2 separate regions of the Homo sapiens genome follow, and region 1 is linked to region 2. Evidence: fine-mapped expression QTL. A gene starts in region 2. The other region holds a variant in brackets. All regions are shown on one strand. Distances are between the middles of the regions. Region 1 overlaps LOC124902866 (a long non-coding RNA gene). Region 2 holds the start of SCNN1A (sodium channel epithelial 1 subunit alpha).

The links.
Region 1: its variant is fine-mapped to the expression of SCNN1A in pancreas (GTEx, PIP above 0.99).

What each region holds. Positions count from the first base shown.
Region 1 is chr12:6,142,379-6,152,734 of GRCh38, reverse strand. LOC124902866 (a long non-coding RNA gene) reads left to right here. Exons shown (of 2, transcript XR_007063189.1): 2 at 2,650-2,983. Among named protein-coding and RNA genes, the nearest start is that of VWF, 23 kb to the right of the region's middle. RefSeq lists an enhancer at 9,831-10,356. The variant G/A (reference allele first, on the strand shown) is at 4,419.
Region 2 is chr12:6,371,517-6,379,516 of GRCh38, reverse strand. It overlaps SCNN1A (sodium channel epithelial 1 subunit alpha), which reads left to right and starts at 3,954. Exons shown (of 13, transcript NM_001038.6): 1 at 3,954-4,012; 2 at 4,680-5,149. The coding sequence starts at 4,734. It overlaps LOC105369626 (a long non-coding RNA gene), which reads right to left. Exons shown (of 4, transcript XR_931591.3): 4 at 5,942-6,362. It also overlaps a transcript of LTBR not described here. RefSeq lists enhancers at 2,522-3,126, 4,943-5,547.

The sequences.
Region 1 (10,356 bases), 230 kb after region 2:
ATGTGAAAACCACCCTAAATTTCTGGAATAAATAAAACTTGGTCATAACGCACTCTCTTTTTTAATAAAACGGTTGGATTCACTTGCGAGTATTTTGTTTAGGACTTTTGCACCTATGTTCATGAGTAAGTTTTGCCAGGGATTTTCTTTTTCTTATACTGCTCATGTCTGGTTTTGGAGTCAAAATTGTATTGGAGACATCATCTGAATTAAAGCTAATTTTCTTTGTGGCAGAGTCCACTGATGGTTCTCTAATGGTTATTCTGGCCTTCTAACTTTTAACAACAAAACCCCAGTTTTTAGCTGGATACAAAACTGAAGATTATATTTCCCAGCCTCCCTCATAGGTAGATATGGCCATGTGATTAAGTTTTGACCAGTATCCCTTCATCAGCACCATCGTCAGTCAATTCTTTGTAGTTTTGAGTCCTGAGATTTACGATTCCAGCTTTGAGAAATAGGTCTTTGAGGGCATTTGTTTCTAATAGTGATTAATTTCATTAAAACTAAAAACATAGGCAGGGCGGGGTGGCTCACGCCTGTAATCCCAGCACTTTGGATTGCTGAGGAGGGCAGATCACGAGGTCAGGAGTTCGAGACCAGCATGGCCAACATGGTGAAACCCCATCTTTACTAAAGAAAAAAAATTAGCTGGACATGGTGGCGGGCACCTGTAATCCCAGCTACTTGGGAGGCTGAGGCAGGAGAATTCCTTGAACCTGGGAGGTGGAGATTGTAGTGAGCTGAGATTGCACCATATCGCTCCAGCCTGGGCCACGGGACGAGACTCCATCTCAAACAAACAAACAAAACTAAAAACATGATCTAGTAACTAGATTTCTTGATTTTTTAATACATCAGGGTAAAACAGAAATACCTTCATTGCTTCTTGACCTATATTTGAAGCTTCTGTAGATACCTTCACATAGTAGGAAGTCTAGCAGTTCTCAAGGCCCTACACCAGCCATTATATGCATGAAAGAAGATCAACTGTGAAAAATTTTTGGCTTTTAAAAATGTATTTACCAGGCGTGGTGGCTCACGTCTGTAATCCCAGCACTTTAGGAGGCTGAGGTGGGTGGATCATGAGGTCAGGATATCAAGATCATCCTGGCTAACACGGTGAAACCCCATCTCTACTAAAAATACAAAAAATTAGCCGGGCGTGGTGGCGAGCGCCTGTAGTCCCAGCTACTCGGGAGGCTGAGGCAGGAGAATGGTGTGAACCCGGGAGGCGGAGCTTGCAGTGAGCCAAGATCACGCCACTGCACTCCAGCCTGGGCGACAGAGCGAAACTCCGTCTCAAAAAAAAAATGTTTTTAAAGGTTTCTTCAATTATCAGAAAGTTTGCACCTATGTATTAGTTCATAATAGGAACTAATATGACTTTCATATTAAACTGATAATATTCTGCATTTTATATGCATTATAGCAGAATAGACTGAATTTTACATTTTTCATGATGATTTCTTCTTTGACCATGAATTGGAAATATATTTAGAAGTTTCTAGCCATATGGGAATAAAACATAATTATATTTTGTTATTTGCTTCTAATTAAATGTATTATGCAGGGAAACACATTGATACTGATTCTTTGAAATCTGTTGAGAATTGCTTTGTGGTTTAGTACTTAGGCAGTTTTTTTTTGTTTATTTTTGTTTTGTTTTGTTTTGTTTTAGACAGTCTCACTCTGTCGCCCAGGATGGAGTGCAGTGGCGTGATCTCGGCTCACTGCAAGCTCCACCTCCTGGGTTCATGCCATTCTCCTGCCTCAGCCTTCTGAGTAGCTGGGACTACAGTCGCCTGTCACCATGCCCGGCTAATTTTTTTGTATTTTTAGTAGAGACGGGGTTTCACCGCGTTAGCCAGGATGGTCTCGATCTCCTGACCTCGTGATCCACCTGCCTTGGCCTCCCAAAGTGCTGGGATTAGAGGCGTGAGCCACCGCGCCCGGCCTGGTCAGTTTTTATATATGTTCCAAATGTGTCATCCCTAATTGCTGGGTAGAGAATTCTATCTATGCCCAATAAATCAAGCTGATTAATTGTATTGTGCAAATTTTCTGTCTTTTCTAATTTTTTGTCTCTTTGATCTAACAGTAACGGAGAGAGGTGTGTTGACATCTCCCACTATGATGGCAAATATGGCAACTTCTCCCTGGGTTCTTTTAATTTTTATAATTTATATATTTTAAACCTATTTTATTAAGCTTATTTTTTAGTTTTATAATCATATCTTCTTATTTTACTAGGTTTATAATAATCTTAGTAGATTGTATTTTTTGTCATTATTTAATGTCATTCTCTAGCCATAATAATGCTTTATTTCCCCAAAGTCTATTTTGTCCCATATTACTAACAACTACTCCAGCTTTGCTTCAAACACTTTCATGTCCTTATATTTTAGGTATGTCGTTTATAAACGTCATGGAATTATGTGGTATCCACCTTTCAAGATAGCCCTCCAGTGAATCTTATTTCACCAGTCCCACCCTTGTGTAGTCTGATGTTGAGTAGGGCTGACTTGTATAACCAATAGGATATTGTGGAAATAAGACTCCTGAGGCCAGATCATAAAAAAACCTTGTATCTTTCATTTTTCTCTCTCTTGGACTCTTGCTCTGGGAAAATCTGGTCACCCAGTGCAGCAGGGAATCCAGGCCTCCTGCCAGCTACAGCACCAGCTGGGCAGCACCGTGCATGAGCCGTCTTGGAAGTGGATCTTCCAGTCCCAGTCGTGCTGGCGCCTTTGGCTGACTGGGCCTTAGCCAACCTCTGCGGGATCCTGAAGCCGAACCACTGAGGAAGCCAACCAATTGCAGAGGAATATTCTTCAGCTTCTACAAAGAATCCGGCCTCTTATTTTTCTTGAAACTTACAGCTGTCTTGGTGTGTCTTATTTTTTTCCCCTCTTGATAGAGAAGTGCTACAAAGAAATGTTTTTGTACTTCAATAAAAAGACGAAGTAAGTAAAAAGATAAATGACAACTGGTTTGGACCTCATGTTGGAGATGTGATAGGGTGTAGAAGGGACTGGAAACTGGAGAGAACATGCCCATCCCAAGAGAGAAGACCCGCCTTTCCAACAACTTCCAGTCTTCCAAGTGAAGCTGGAAATCCACATTTAAAAACACAGATAAGAATTACACACACACGACTGGATGCGGTGGCTCACGCCTGTAATCCCAGCACTTTGGGAGGCCGAAGTGGGCGGATCACGAGGTCAGGAGATCTAGACCATCCTGGCTAACACGGTGAAACCCCGTCTCCCCTAAACAAAATACAAAAAATTAGCCGGGCATGGTGGCGGGCGCCTGTAGTCGTAGCTACTTGGGAGGCTGAGGCAGGAGAATGGCAGGAACCCAGAAGGCGGAGCTTGCAGTGAGCCGAGATCTCGCCACTACACTCCAGCCTGGGCGACAGTGTGAGACTCCGTCTCAAAAAAAAAAAAAAAAAAAAAAAAATTACAAACCACACACACCCTGGCTACTTTGGGTAAAAGAGTGCCAGAGAGGGTCAGTCACTTTCTCAAGATGGAGGAGGAAGCAGATAGAGCCTCAGACCTCCAGGACTCTATCTGAGACTTTTTTTTTTCTTTTTTCTTTTTTGAGATGGAGTCTTGCTCTGCCGCGCAGGCTAGAGTGCAATGGCGCAATCTCCACTCACTGCAACCTCCGCCTCCTGGGTTCAAGCAGTTCTTCTGCCTCAGCCTCCTGAGTAGCTGGGATTACAGACGCCAGCCACCACGCCCAGCTAATTTTCGTATTTTTAGTAGAGACAGGGTTTCACCATGTTGGCCGGGCTGGTCTCAAACTTCTGACCTCAGGTGATCGCGCGCCTCGGCCTCCCCACGTGCTGGGATTACAGGCATGAGCCACTGCGCCCAGCCCAAGACTTCTGTCATTTCCAAGATTTGTGATAAAATATATACGCTATTAGTTCAAGTCAAGAGTGTGATTATGTCTCACTGTTTGCTTGCTACAGGTCAGTATCTTAAACACTTTGGCTTTCTTCTTTGAGCAAGAGGTTCCATCCTTGGTGAATGGCTTGAAGGTGCTTGAAGGTGGCAGCTTGCTCAAGGCCCACAGTGGGGGATGCATTACATTTTCTGTGCAAATTATAGCAGGTAATTCAGTTTCACAGAGAGAAGCCAAAAATTTAGAACAACAGAAAACTTTGTCCTGTAGTATTTGAGGAAGAGGAATAAGATAAGTGTATTTTCCTTAAATCAACTCACCATCTGTAGTATGAAAGTCCATTTTAAATAGTTAATGATACTTATGTTTCAGGAAGGCACAGAGACAAGGAGAAAGTTCTCACGGCGTGTGAATGTGTGAGTAAAAGCCTCCTGTGAGAGGATGTGGCCTGGTTCACAAGAGAAATTTTCTGTGTCTCAAAGTAGAAGCCTGGAACTGTG[G/A]ACTAATGAAATTATAGGCAGGGATTGCTTGGTCCAGCTCACATCATCCCAAGGCCTTTCCCCACCAATCAAGTCTGAACTAAAAGGATTTTGCTTGTATCTTAGAGTAAATCAGGAAGAGCTCAGCCAGAGACCCTGGGGTCCTTCAGTTTTGCAAGATGCAAATTGGGAGAATCCTAGAAGAGGTGTCCTTCCCTAAAGTCCTTTCCAACTGTGAGACCTGATGCCTTCACTTTGGGATTTGGGAGCTGAACCATAAGGAAGACTGAACAGGATCAGGAATAGGCAGTGGGAGCAGAGAGCACTGGGCCAGGAGTTGGAGGGCAAGGAGTAAGCATAGGCTGTTTGACTCCCTCGCTGCGTGGCCTCTGGCAAGTCACTTTGTTACAGGACTCCACCATTTACCCAAAGGTAGCCGTTGGGTCAGGGTTTCTGTACTATAGTGCCTTCTGTGTTCGCCAGAAATATGTTACAGGAAAGGGGGTCCCGATCCAGACCCCAAGAGAGGGTTCTTGGATCTCGAGCAAGGAAGAATTCAGGGTGAGTCCGCAGTGCAAAGGCAAAGCAAGTTTATTAAGGAAGTAAAGTGGTGAAAGAACATCCACTCCATAGACACAGTAGGACGTTCCCGAAAGTAAGAGGAGGAACGCATCCAACCTACGTACAATGCTTGTATATATGGGGAGATGTGCTCTGCTACAAGGTTTGTGATAAAGGATTAATTTTCTTAATTACTATATTTTGCAGGAATTGATATTATTATCTTTAAAGCAAAATTAGGAATACCTTTGTTCAGCTGGGCACAGTGGCTCACGCCTGTAATCCCAGCACTTTAGGAGGTTGAGGTGGGTGGATCATGAGGTCAGGAGTTCAATACCAGCCTGGCCAACATGGCGAAACCCTGTCTCTACTAAAAATACAAAAATTAGCCGGGTGTGGTGGTGGGCGCCTGTAATCCCAGCTACTTGGAAGGCTGGGGCAGGGAATTGCTTGAATCTGGGAGGCAGAGTTTGCAGTGAGCCGACATCGTGCCACTGCACTCCTGCCTGGTCAACAGAGTAAGACTCCGTCTCAAAAAAAAAAAAAAAAAAGGAATACCTTTGTACCAGGTTATCTGGACACTCCCAAGTCTGGGCCTGTTCAGTAAACACGATTAATTTGTTCCCTTAACTGTAAACATGCAGAGGCTAATAATGCCTAACTTTCTGAGAATGCAGCCCAGCAAGTCTCAGCCTCATTTTCCTAGTCCTCACTCAAAATGGAGTCATTCTGGTTCGAATGCCTCTGACAACTTTGCTGAGCATTCACTTCTTCATGTGCAAATTGGGAACAATACTGCCTGCTCTTGCTAACTCATGGTGGTAGCGTAAGGCTCTAATGAAGTCTGGTCTGGGAAATTGCCCTGAAAACCAAAATGCATCGCAGAAAGGAGTAACGTTTCATCTGACCCCTTCCTACCTCTCCAGCCCTGTCGTCCACCATGCTTCCCCTGATCTGTGTTGCAGCCACAGACTGTCTTTCAGTGTCTTGGTAGGTAGCCTCCTCCTGCAGCTGGGCCTTTGCACGTGCTATTCCCATGGCCTGAAGTGTGCCCACCAACCTTTGCCTGGCTTTACTCCTACTCATCCCATAGAACTCAGTTCAGTTGTACCTCTTCAGGGAGGACTTCTCTGCCCACACCCCCCGGCCCTCTCAGTTTGGGTGGGAATCTATTACTTGTATGCCTCCCTGGCACCACGTGTCTTACTCTCATCACTGTTTGTAGTTATAATTTGTTTGGATTAATGTCGGTCCTGTCAACAGATCATAAGCTCCATGAGGGCAGAGAATGGTGTGTTTTTTCACTCACCTTCATATCCCAAGAGCCTAGCCCAGATACCAAATAAATACTAGCGGTTGTAGAGTAGGTCCGGGAAATCTAGGTAGCAGGGATTCTGAATTTAGGTTTCTGGATGAGGGTGCTGGGAATGAGACACCCAGCAAGAGAAGTCTCCTCTCTGAATTAGCCTGGTGTTTGCACCTTTTTTCCCCTCCCTTTAGGCAAAGCTGTGCTACACTATGTAATGTCATGCTGGTGTCTGTCTGTCTGTATGTATTTATTTGAGAGTGAGTCTCTTTCTGTTGCCCAGGCTGGAGTGCGGTGGCGTGACCTCGCTTCACCGCAACTTCTGCCTCCCGGGTTCCAGCAATTCTCCTGCCTCAGCCTCCTGAGTAGCTGGGATTATAGGCATCTCCACCATGCCCGGCTAATTTTGTATTTTTAGTAGAGACGAGGTTTCTCCATGATGGTCAGGCTGGTCTCGAACTCCTGACCTCAGGTGATCTGCCTGCCTCAGCCTCCCAAAGTGTTGGGATTAGAGGCATGAGCCGCTGCACCTGGCCAGAAAAAAATCTTTAATCCTGCAGCTGAGGAGTGGAGATGGGAGCCCAGTCTCAAACCCATCTCCCTGACCTACAAAAAGTAAGGGTTTATGTAGCAGGGAAGAAATGTAACAATGCCTACGAAAACAGGAACTAGGGAGGGGCAAGGAAACAATCATGATGAATGAGGGGTCTGGGCATTTCCTTGTCTGGATGTGGTGATCTGGTGAGTTTCAGTTCTTTGATACTTTTTTTTAGAGGCCTGAAGGTCTTTTCCTGAGGAGGGAACTCAGATAAAACAAATTAAGTTTTTCAAGCTTTAAGACTAGAAAAAAGGCCGGGCGTGGTGGCTTTAAGACTAGAAAAAAGGCCGGGCGCGGTGGCTCACGCCTGTAATCCCAGCACTTTGGGAGGCCGAGGCAGGAGGATCACGAGGTCAGGGATCGAGACCACCCTGGCAAAGACGGTGAAACCCCATCTCTACTAAAAATACAAACAATTACCCGGGCGTGGTGGCAGGCGCCTGTAATCCCAGCTACTCGGGAGGCTGAGGCAGGAGAATGGCGTGAACCCGGGAGGCGGAGCTTGCAGTGAGCTGAGATCGCGCCTCTGCCCTCCAGCCTGGGCGACAGAGCGAGACTCCGTCTCAAAAAAAGAAAAAAAAAAAAAAAAAAAGACTAGAAAACAAAGACTAGAAAAGTCAATTTCGATGCTTATCCAAAAAAAAAAAAAAAACCTATCTATGGGATGATTGGGTCGGTTTCATTATAAACACAACCACACTCCTCTCATAGTCCCTCAGCCTCTCCCCTGTCCCTAGCCCTAATCTGTTCTCCATTTCTGTAATTTATATAAATGAAATTATACAGGATATAACCTTTGGGGATTGGCTGTTTTTCACTCAGCATAATTCCCTGGAGATTCATCCACGTTGCGTGTATCAGTAATTTGTTCTCTTTTTTTTTTTTTGAGACGGAGTCTCCGTCTGTCGCCCAGGCTGGAGTGCAGTGACGCGATCTCGGCTCACTGCAAGCTCCGCCTCCCGGGTTCACGCCATTCTCCTGCCTCAGCCTCCCGAGTAGCTGGGACTACAGGCGCCCGCCACCACGCCCAGCTAATTTTTTATAGTTTTAGTAGAGACGGGGTTTCACCGTGTTAGCCAGAATGGTCTGGATTTCCTGACCTCGTGACCCGCCCGCCTCGGCCTCCCAAAGTGCTGGGATTACAAGCATGAGCCACCGCGCCCAGCCTCTTCCAGTTTTTGTCATTGCAAATAAAGCTTCTGTGAACATTTGGCCGGGCGCGGTGGCTCACGCCTGTAATCCCAACACTTTGAGAGGCCGAGGCGGGCGGATCACGAGGCTAGGAGATCGAGACCATCCTGGCTAACACGGTGAAAACCCGTGTCTACTAAAAATACAAAAAATTAGCCGGGCATGGTGGTGGCGGGTGCCTGTAGTCCCAGCTACGCAGGAGGCTGAGGCAGGAGAATGGCATGAACCGAGATCGCGCCACTGCACTCCAGCCTGGGTGACAGAGCGAGATTCTCTCTCAAAAAAAAAAAAAAAAACCTTCTGTGAACATTCACGTACAATATTTAACATGAAACTATTTAGATTTCTCTGGCATAAATGCCCAAAAATGCAATAATAGGGTTTAACCATTGTTTTTTGTTTTTGTTTGAGACAGAGTCTCACTCAGTCACCCGTTCTGGAGTGTAGTGGCACTATCTTGGCTCACTGCAACCTCCGCCTCCCAGGTTCAAGCAGTTCTCCTTCCTCAGCCTCCCAAGTAGCTGGGATTACAGGTGCACGCCAAAATGCCTAGCTAATTTTTTTTTTTTTGTATTTTTAGTAGAGATGGGGTTTTACCATGTTGGCCAGGCTTGTCTCGAACTCCTGACCTCAAGTGATCCGCCCACCTCGGCCTGCCAAAGTGCTGGGATTACAGGTGTGAGCCACCGGGCCAGCCCGTTTGTTTGCTTTTTGAGACAGGGTCTTACTCTGTTGTCCAGGCTGGAATGCAGTGGTGCTGAGGTAGGAGGCAGGATCTTACTCTGGACCAGATTGAAGATTGGCTGAAACAGGGAAGAGGCGGGGAAAACACCTCTCCATGACATGCCCACCAGTTGGCTGGGCATGGTGGCTCCCGCCTGTAATCGTAGCACTTTGGGAGGTAGAGGTGGGCGGACCACTTGAGGTCAAGAGTTTGAGACCAGCCTGGCCAACATGGTGAAACCCCATCTCTACTAAAAATACAAAAATTAGTAGGGCGTGGTGGTGGGCACCTGTAATCCCAGCTACTCAGGAGGCCGAGGCCAGAGAATCACTTGAACCTGGGAGACAGATGTTGCAGTGAGCTGAGATTGCACCATTGCACTCTAGCCTATGAGACAGAGCAAGACTCCAGCTGGGGGGGGGGGGGGGGGGGAAAGACCTGACAACCAATTCCATGTCAGTTTACCATTGCCATGGCAACACACAGAAGTTACCACCTCTTTTCATGGCAACCACGTGAAAGTTACCACCATTTTTCTAGAAATTTCTGAATAACCCATACTGCGTCTGGAATTGGTGGGTTCTTGGTCTCACTGACTTCAAGAATGAAGCCACAGACCCTCGTAGTTAACAGCTCTTAAAGTGGCACATCTGGAGTCTGTGTCTTCTGACTTTCAGATGTGTTCAGAGTTTCTTCCTTCTGGTGGGTTCATGATCTCCCTGGCTCAGGATTGAAGCTGCAGACCTTTGCGGTGGGCGTTACCACTCTTAAGGCAGTGCATCTGGAGTTGTTCGTTCCTCCCGGTGGGCTCGTGGTTTTGCTGGCCTCAGGAGTGAAGCTGCAGATCTTCACGGTGAGAGTTACAGATCTTAAAAGCAGTGTGCACCCAGAGTGAGCAATAGCAAGATTTATTGCAAAGAGCAAAAGAACGAAGCCTTCACACTGTGGAAGGGGACCGGAGCGGGTTGCCAATGCTGGCTCCGGCAGCCTGCTTTTATTCTCTTATCTGGCCCCACCCACATGCTGCTGATTGGTAGAGCCGAGTGGCCTGTTTTAACAGGGCGCTGATTGGTGCGTTTACAATCCTTGAGCTAGATACAAAGGTTCTCCACGTCCCCATCAGATTAGTTAGATACAGAGTTTCCACACAGAGGTTGTCCAAGGCCCCAGCAGAGCAGCTAGATACAGAGTGTCGATTGGTGCACTCACAAATCTTGAGCTAGACACAGGGTGCTGATTGGTGTGTTTACAATCCCTGAGCTAGATATAAAAACTCTCCACGTCCCCACCAGACTCAGGAGCCCAGCTGGCTTCACCTAGTGGATCCCGCACCTGGGGCTGCAGGTGGAGCTGCCTGCCAGTCCCGCGCTGTGCGCTCTCATTCCTCAGCTCTTGGGTGGTCGATGGGACTGGGCGCCGTGGAGCAGGGGGTGGTGCTCGTCGGGGAGGCTTGGGCCACACGGGAGCCCATGGAGTGGGTGGGAGGCTCAGGCATGGCAGGCTGCAGGTCCCGAGCCCTGCCCCGCGGGAAGGCAGCTAAGGCCCGGCGAGAAATCGAGCGCAGCGCCGGTGGGCCAGC
Region 2 (8,000 bases):
CAGTGGGCAGCCCCCAGTGTGAAGTGGCTAATTAGCTCCAAGTAGTAAGAATAAAGAGTTGCATTTAACTAAGTAACTGATTCTTATCCTGGAAAGGATAGAAGTGAACAGGGAAAAGTGAAGAAAATTTAGATAAATTAATAGACCACAAATAAATGGGTTGTCAGAGGAAGTTAGGATGTTTGAAGTTTTGCAGATGCTTTTTCGTAGCATATCCCGCTCTGTCAAAGATAAACTAGGAAAGACGCCAGTTCTGCTGTCTTCTGCAGACTGGGTCAGCAAACAGTGACCGCTAGACACTGAGGTCACCAAGATGAATACGCCTGGTCTCTGTCCTTGTGTTGCGGGAAGTCAGGGACCCCAAACGGATGTATACGTACAAACACACATACATCAGGATAATAGTAAATAATAATAATAAATAATAGTAAACAGTGGTAAGTGCAGAGATAGGCTCTCCCTAGGAGGGTGGAGTGATTACTTCCGTCATCTCCTGTCCGCGGAGAACAAGAGGCAGGAAGACCCTTTGCACTCATAACCCTCATCCCATGGCAGCCCCTCTGGTTTCACTTCTCTCCCTGCAGCCGTGCATATTTTATGGCCACACCACAGGGTTAGAGGATAGCTGGTGTTGGGAGGGGAAGGCAGCCCTGGGTTGGCGGGAAGGGCTGGGGCTCTGGGGGAGTCTGGGGGTAGTCCTGGGAAGGCAGGGGGTCCTTCCAAGACAGAGTCTACAAAGCTCTTGACTTCTTATAGAACAAAACTGTACTTCTCTCAAAGTCAGAGAAGGAGAACTGGGCTTGGAAAGGAGTGGCCTGGTTTTCAGTCTGACCCCACCCCTAACTCCTGGGTGACTGTGGCCAAGTCACTTTGCTTCTGTGGGCCTCAGTCCCCTCATGCATGAAGCAGGGGGCTAGATGCAAGGTCAGCTGGAAAAAGTCTTTGTCCATCTGGGTTGCCTTACCCACCCCTTCTTGCCCTTTCATTTTCTCAGGTAAGATCACCGGGGCCCATAGAGGTCAAGTGCCTTTCTCAAAGTCACATAGTTTAAAAGCAAAAATAGGGGCTGAGTATGGTGGCTCACACTTGTAATCCCAGCACTTTGGGAGGCTGAGGCAGGAGGACTGCTTGAGCCTAGGAGTTGGAGGCTGCAGTGAGCCATGATCATGCTGCTGTACTCCAGCCTAGAGGATAGTGCATGATCCTGTCTCTAAGATAAATAAGAAAATAAAAGCAAAAATGGAAGTTGTAGAAACATACCTATAGCATGGTCTCTGTCATAAAAAAGAACTATATATTTTGTTTTTTAAAAATACATGTAAGTTTATAAAGGCACACAAAAAGATATAGACAGATATACAAATTATGGTGGCTCCCCTTTGGGGAGGGAAAGGAAGGGGACTAAGGGAAGCTCTATATACTTCTGTATTGCTGAAAAATTGTACTGTGACAAAAACATATTTGTGTATTATTTGTACACTTTAAAAGATCATCTTTAAAATGGACTTCTGACCAAAGTCCAGGTCTCAGATTTCTATTTTCCTCACAACACCAAGCCTGTTCTAGCCCGCTCCAGGTCTAGAATGCTGCAGCACTAGGCTCGCATTGCCACTCCCATACCCGGCAGGACGTGGCAGGGTCACCACCCTTTGGCTCAGCCCAGACCAGGCATTGCAATTCTTCTCACAGAGCCCTTGATATGAAAACTATTTGCCATGCTGCCTTAAGCTAGTGGTTGGATTTCAGGCATGAGCTGGCAAATAGAAAAGGCAGGGAGGTGCTTTTCAGAACCTTTGAGATCAAACAGCCAGGGTGCTGAGCACCTTATTGCAGGGAGGACCATGCCCAATGTAAGGACCTGGCTCAAGGGAGACTGGAGTTTCTAGGGGTCTCTGGGATATGTGGGGCAGTGGGGACAGTGCAGAGACCTTTTCACAGAGCCAAGGAGATAACCCAGCACCCAGAGAGCAGACGAATCCACGGGCTCTGTGTGGGAGTGAGGGAGGCCTTCCCGGCTTTCACATCCAGGTGCACCTGAGCCCCGATCCCCCATGAGTCTGTCTCAGGAAGTAAATGGCAAAAGCGCTAAGTAGATAGCCCCAGAGGAGGAGGAGAATTCTGAATTCTGTTTATAGCTCTGCTCCTATTTTGTTTTCTAACCTCAGAAAACTGATTTATCCTTGGGAAGGGTCAGTTTCTTCATTAGGACAATGAAGAAAAATCCAGCTGTCCCTTCCAAGGGGAGGTATCATGAGCAGTATCAAGGTAAGCAAGGGAACCTGGTTTGGAATCCTGGTTGACACCGGCTTTCACTTTAAGAAGTCGCAAGAGACTGCCGCAAGAGAGGAAGCCACAGACCAGGTTGGACCCTGAGCCTGGAGTACTGCCTTTTCTCTTCTTTGCCTGCTAAACTCCTTGCTTGTCAAGATTCAGCAGAGATGACACCTTCTCTGGGAAGGCTTCCTGAGTCTCCTGCAGTGAGCCCCTAGGCTCCCCTAGCCCTTGGCTCTTATGTCTTATCTCTGAGAAATCTGAGATCTGCACTTTTGTTAGAAGTCCGTTTTAAAGACAATCTTTTAAAGTGTACAAATAGAAACCTTATCTTATTGTATTGCAGGCCTATCTCCTCCCCCGGTGTGTATCAATGCTCAGGCTGGGCCTTTGTCTGCTGGCTTGTGGAGGGAGGCAGGACAAGCCAGTGACCACATTCCTGCACTCTGGGCTGCCTCCTGTGGGGCCCGTGAGGAAGCGGCAGCCTTCCCTGCCGCGTGCAGGGCCTGGGTTGTGTGGGTGGCTCTCCCGAGTCTCCTCCAGCCCTTTTTGGGTCTGATTCTCTGACCCTCCTCTCTCTCCTTGCTCACCACTTGGCACTCCACTCCTTATCCTTTTGCTGCATTAAGTTTGGAAAGAGATTTTGGAGAAAATATAGCCCATCAACGAATTTCTCCTCCTCCCAGGGCCTGTCTAGGCGTGTGCCATGCCCACCCTCTTCCTTTCCAGCGCTGGCCACATCCTCCCTGCACCTTCAGTGCCTGCTTTCCCTGCCTCTTCCTGGGCTCCGGGTCTGTGTCCACAGTGTCCTGCGTGGCCCTCGCGCTGCCTCTGGTTGCCCACATTCCTGCAACTCTGTGACCACAGCAGGGGCGATTACACATTCCTGGCCTGGCAGCCAACAGTGTAAAAAAGAACAGAATGTCCTAGGGCCCCGCCTAGCCCCCAGCTTCACCTGGGCCCCTCCCGGGTCTGGACAAGGTTGGAGGGGGTGGCGAGGAATCAGCAGGAAAGAGGAGGGACCAGGAGGAGGCAGACGCATCCCACCTGAGTGCGCTGCTCCCACTTAGTGAGCGGGGAGGAGACCTGCAGAGACCTCTTCTCTCTTCTCTGCAGGGCCTGAGGGTGAGGCTGACCTGTGGGTGCCCTTGGAGGGCTGCCCACTTGCTGAGCCTCTAGCTCCTGGAAGCACACTTGGGACTCCCCCCTTGCTCTCCTTCCTGGAGACAGACTCCCTTTGGTGCTGGCTCCTTCTATTTGCCCCCACCACTGCCCCCCACCTGCCTCTACTCACTCAGTGCCCCTCCTCCATCCCTATCTCTCTGTCCTTCGCTGTCCCTCTCTATTGTCTCCCTCTTTCTGCCCTCCTGTCCTCCCGGTTCCCCACCCAGGCCCTCTCAGCCTGGCTGGCCCCTTCTCCTTGTGTTGCCCTCCTAGCTGTGGGCTCAGGATCCTTCTACTTGTTCAGATCTTTGCCCCTCACCTGCCATCCTGTCCCCCAGCCTCCTTGCCTGTCTGCGTCTAAAGCCCCTGCCCAGAGTCCGCCTTCTCAGGTCCAGTACTCCCAGTTCACCTGCCCTCGGGAGCCCTCCTTCCTTCGGAAAACTCCCGGCTCTGACTCCTCCTCAGCCCCTCCCCCCGCCCTGCTCACCTTTAATTGAGATGCTAATGAGATTCCTGTCGCTTCCATCCCTGGCCGGCCAGCGGGCGGGCTCCCCAGCCAGGCCGCTGCACCTGTCAGGTGAGGGGGAGGAGAGGTTTGGCTGCCAGATTCAACTGGAAAGGAACCAGTCCCAGTCCAGCCGCAACCTGGGAGTGGGAAGCTGGAGGCAGCCCAGACCTCCTGGAGCCCTGCAGTCCTGGGGCAGAGACAGAATCAGGACACAGCTCGAGGTCAGGGCCAGAGGCTGGAGCTGAGGGCCTAGAGTGAGAGGGGGCAAGGCAAGGGGGGGAGAGGAAGAGAGGCAGGATTAGAGAGAGGAGGCAGGCCAGAAAGAGGAGAGCAGGAGAGACCCAAAGAGAAACAGAAGGCAGATAGAGAGGGAGTGAGAGGCAGGAGCTGAGACACAGATCCTGGAGGAAGAAGACCAAAGGAAGGGGGCAGAGACAGAAAGGGAGGTGCTAGGACAAAACTCGAAAGGTGGCCCTATCAGGGAAGCAGAGGAGAGGCCGTTCTAGGGAAGCCCAGCTCCGGCACTTTTGGCCCCAACTCCCGCAGGTCTGCTGGCTCCAGGAAAGGTGGAGGAGGGAGGGAGGAGTGGGAGAATGTGGGCGCAGGGTGGGACATGGGCATGGCCAGGGGCAGCCTCACTCGGGTTCCAGGGGTGATGGGAGAGGGCACTCAGGGCCCAGAGCTCAGCCTTGACCCTGACCCTTGCTCTCCCCAATCCACTCCGGGGCTCATGAAGGGGAACAAGCTGGAGGAGCAGGACCCTAGACCTCTGCAGCCCATACCAGGTCTCATGGAGGGGAACAAGCTGGAGGAGCAGGACTCTAGCCCTCCACAGTCCACTCCAGGGCTCATGAAGGGGAACAAGCGTGAGGAGCAGGGGCTGGGCCCCGAACCTGCGGCGCCCCAGCAGCCCACGGCGGAGGAGGAGGCCCTGATCGAGTTCCACCGCTCCTACCGAGAGCTCTTCGAGTTCTTCTGCAACAACACCACCATCCACGGCGCCATCCGCCTGGTGTGCTCCCAGCACAACCGCATGAAGACGGCCTTCTGGGCAGTGCTGTGGCTCTGCACCTTTGGCATGATGTACTGGCAATTCGGCCTGCTTTTCGGAGAGTACTTCAGCTACCCCGTCAGCCTCAACATCAACCTCAACTCGGACAAGCTCGTCTTCCCCGCAGTGACCATCTGCACCCTCAATCCCTACAGGTCGGTTAGTCCCTCTGCCCCTTCCCTGGTGCCTGCGCCTGGAAGGGTGGTCCAGGGTGCTGAGGTGCTCACTGGGCAGGCAGAGCCTCAGACCTGAGGGTGGGAACTGACACCCCTGTCCCAGGTAGAGCTCACTGCTGGCAAAATGAGGAGCCTCCAGCTTACTGGACTGGCGTCCCTGCCCAGTGGAGCCATCCTAGCACCCCAGGCTCACCCAGAGTGTGGTTGTTGGAGCAGCATTGCCCTCCCCTGCCCTCTCTTCTCCTTCCCTCCCATTCCCTTCTCCCTCCTGCAAGTGGGAGGGAGTGCTTGCAAAAGGGCAGGGGTGTGCTCAGCTGCATCCCTTTTCTGGAGCAAGATGCCAGCAAAGTATAAGACCTCGTCCACCTCAGCAGGAGAGTCTGATGGAGGGGTGAGGCTAGGTGAGGGGAGGCGAGACCGTGCAGGTGCTGTGGAGGTGGTGCTGTCAGTCTTTGTTTAGAAGGGGAATTTATTATGGAGAAAGCAAAGAGGGGGATCGTGGAGGTTAGGGCTGCAAGTGAGCCCAAAGGCTGGGGGCAGGGGCCTTACAGAACAAGGAGAATGGGTCAGGCTAGAGAGCAGCTCCTTGTGAAGCTCTTCCCCCAAAAGACCCAGGCTAAAATGCTGCACTGTTGACCTGCCCAGGTGCCTGACCTTTACGTGCTTGGGTGTGTCCTGAACTTTTGGGTTTCATCGGTGCTCTTTGCCAATGTTGGGTCTGGAAACCGGAGCAGGTGGTAAGCGTGGAGAAGAGAGGAGGGCAGGGCTGAGTGCTTTTGTATACCTTTTATTTGTATTCACTCAGCCATGCCACACCTTGGGAACACCTGCTTCAAGCCAGACACAGGGCTAGGCACCTGGCAAAATGGATTCATGAATAATTCATAAGCCCTTTATTGAAGGCCAGGTAGTTTGCTGTGTTGTGGAGACAGATAAAATAAGATAGCAGAGACAGGCATATAAGCCAGTAACTGTGGCACACTGGGATAAGTATGATAAAAATGGTGAGTTAGTGTACCTTCAAGGAGTGCAAAATCTTTATGGGTGTGGGTGTGAGTGTGTGTGTGCACATATTGGTATGTGTGCGATTTTGGATGCTGGGGATTGGTCATGCTGTGGGTGGAGGCCCCTTCGTATATTCCATCATGTCCAAAGGTGCGTTACGGACTAAGAAAGGGTGGGACGTCCTGTCCTGGAGAGAGAGAGAAAAAAAAAAGCCAGGTCATTTCGTTGATTAACGTCTGTATAATGTCCCAGGTAGGGACCATTTCCTTAGGAAGCTGCCGTGTGCACAGACGCTGCGAAGGTGTCTTGGGTATCTCATTTCATTCTCACATCTTACAAGCCCGGTGCTATTGTTATCCCTATTTTACACTTGAGGAAACTAAGGCAAAGAGAGGCAAGTCACAACATCACAGAGAGAGTGACTGAGCTGTGACTCATCCTGTTTACGCCTAATCCCAAAACTCTGCCTCTTTTTAATACCCAAGATGTGGGGCTTTGAGTGAATGAAACTTCCAGTCAGATGTGGCTTCCGCCTCATTTCAGAGCTCTCTTGGGTCCTTCCTCTTAGCCTCATTTTTCTCCCCCTGCTGCCTGCAGACATCTTCACCCCTTTAGGCCTTGGTGGAGGGGAGGGACCCAGCAGGAAGGGGAAGGACAGCAGGCGGGGCAGTGGGCACTCAATAAATATTTGTGGTTGAAAATATGTCAGTGAGAGATGGAAAGGGAGGGCAGGGGTGAATCGGGTGAGGCCTGCACAGTTCTTAGGTTCTGCTGGATGCGGGGCCCTAGACAGTCCAGGAAAAAGCCGGGGAAAGGAAGCCATAAGCCCTGCCTCTGGGGCCTGCAGGCTGGGAGGCAGCCATCTGCCCAGAAAGAATCCCTCCTTCTTGAAGGGCTGCTGTGGGAGTCGGGAGGGAGAGAACACCTAGGAGAGGAGAGGAGTCGGGGAAGGGCTCCCCAGCACAGCGGGAGGAGATGCAACACCCACCAAGCACTACACACTTGACCTTGTAGTCACATTATGTGCTACACCCTAAAGCTGGGTGCTTTATAGACACTCTCTCATTTAATACTGACAAGTCCAGGGAGGTGGGCAGTATTATTCCCATTTTTTTAGATGAGGAAATTAAGGCTTGGCAAGAGGAAATAATTTGAGCAAGGGAACATACATTATTTATTTATTAAATTAAAAAATAACCGCTGGGCATGGTGCCTCACGCCTGTAATCCCAGCACTTTGGGAGGCCAAGGCAGGCATTGAGGGATCTGGGATGGAGCTCAAACAAGGTTGTTTAAAAGAGCCCCTCACTTGAGGCCAGGAGTTCGAGACCAGCCTGGCCATCATGGTGAAACCCCCGTCTCTACTAAAAATACAAAAATCAGCCAGGTGTGGTGGCGCACGCCTGTAGTCCCAGCTACTTGGGAGGCTGAGGCAGGAGAATCACCTCAGGAGGCCGAGGCTGCAGTGAGCCGAGATCACGCCACTGCATTCCAGCCTGAGCCACAGAGTGAGACACAGTCTCAAAGGAAAAAAAAACAATAATAATGTTTGTATATATTTATGGGCCAGACTTTTTACAAATGAATCTAAATCAAATGATTCTGCTTTAAATTATTTAATTCTCACAACACACCTTGGAAGTAGGTCTCATGATGACTCTTATTTTATGGATGAGGAAACTGAGTCCCAGAGAGTTAAGTAACTGCCTCAACTTCAGACAGACAACAAGTGGTGAAACTGGGACTCAAAAATCATCCCCCGCCCCCCGCCCCACCCCCACCCCCACCGTCCACCCTCACCCCCACCCCCCGCCCCCCCGCCACGC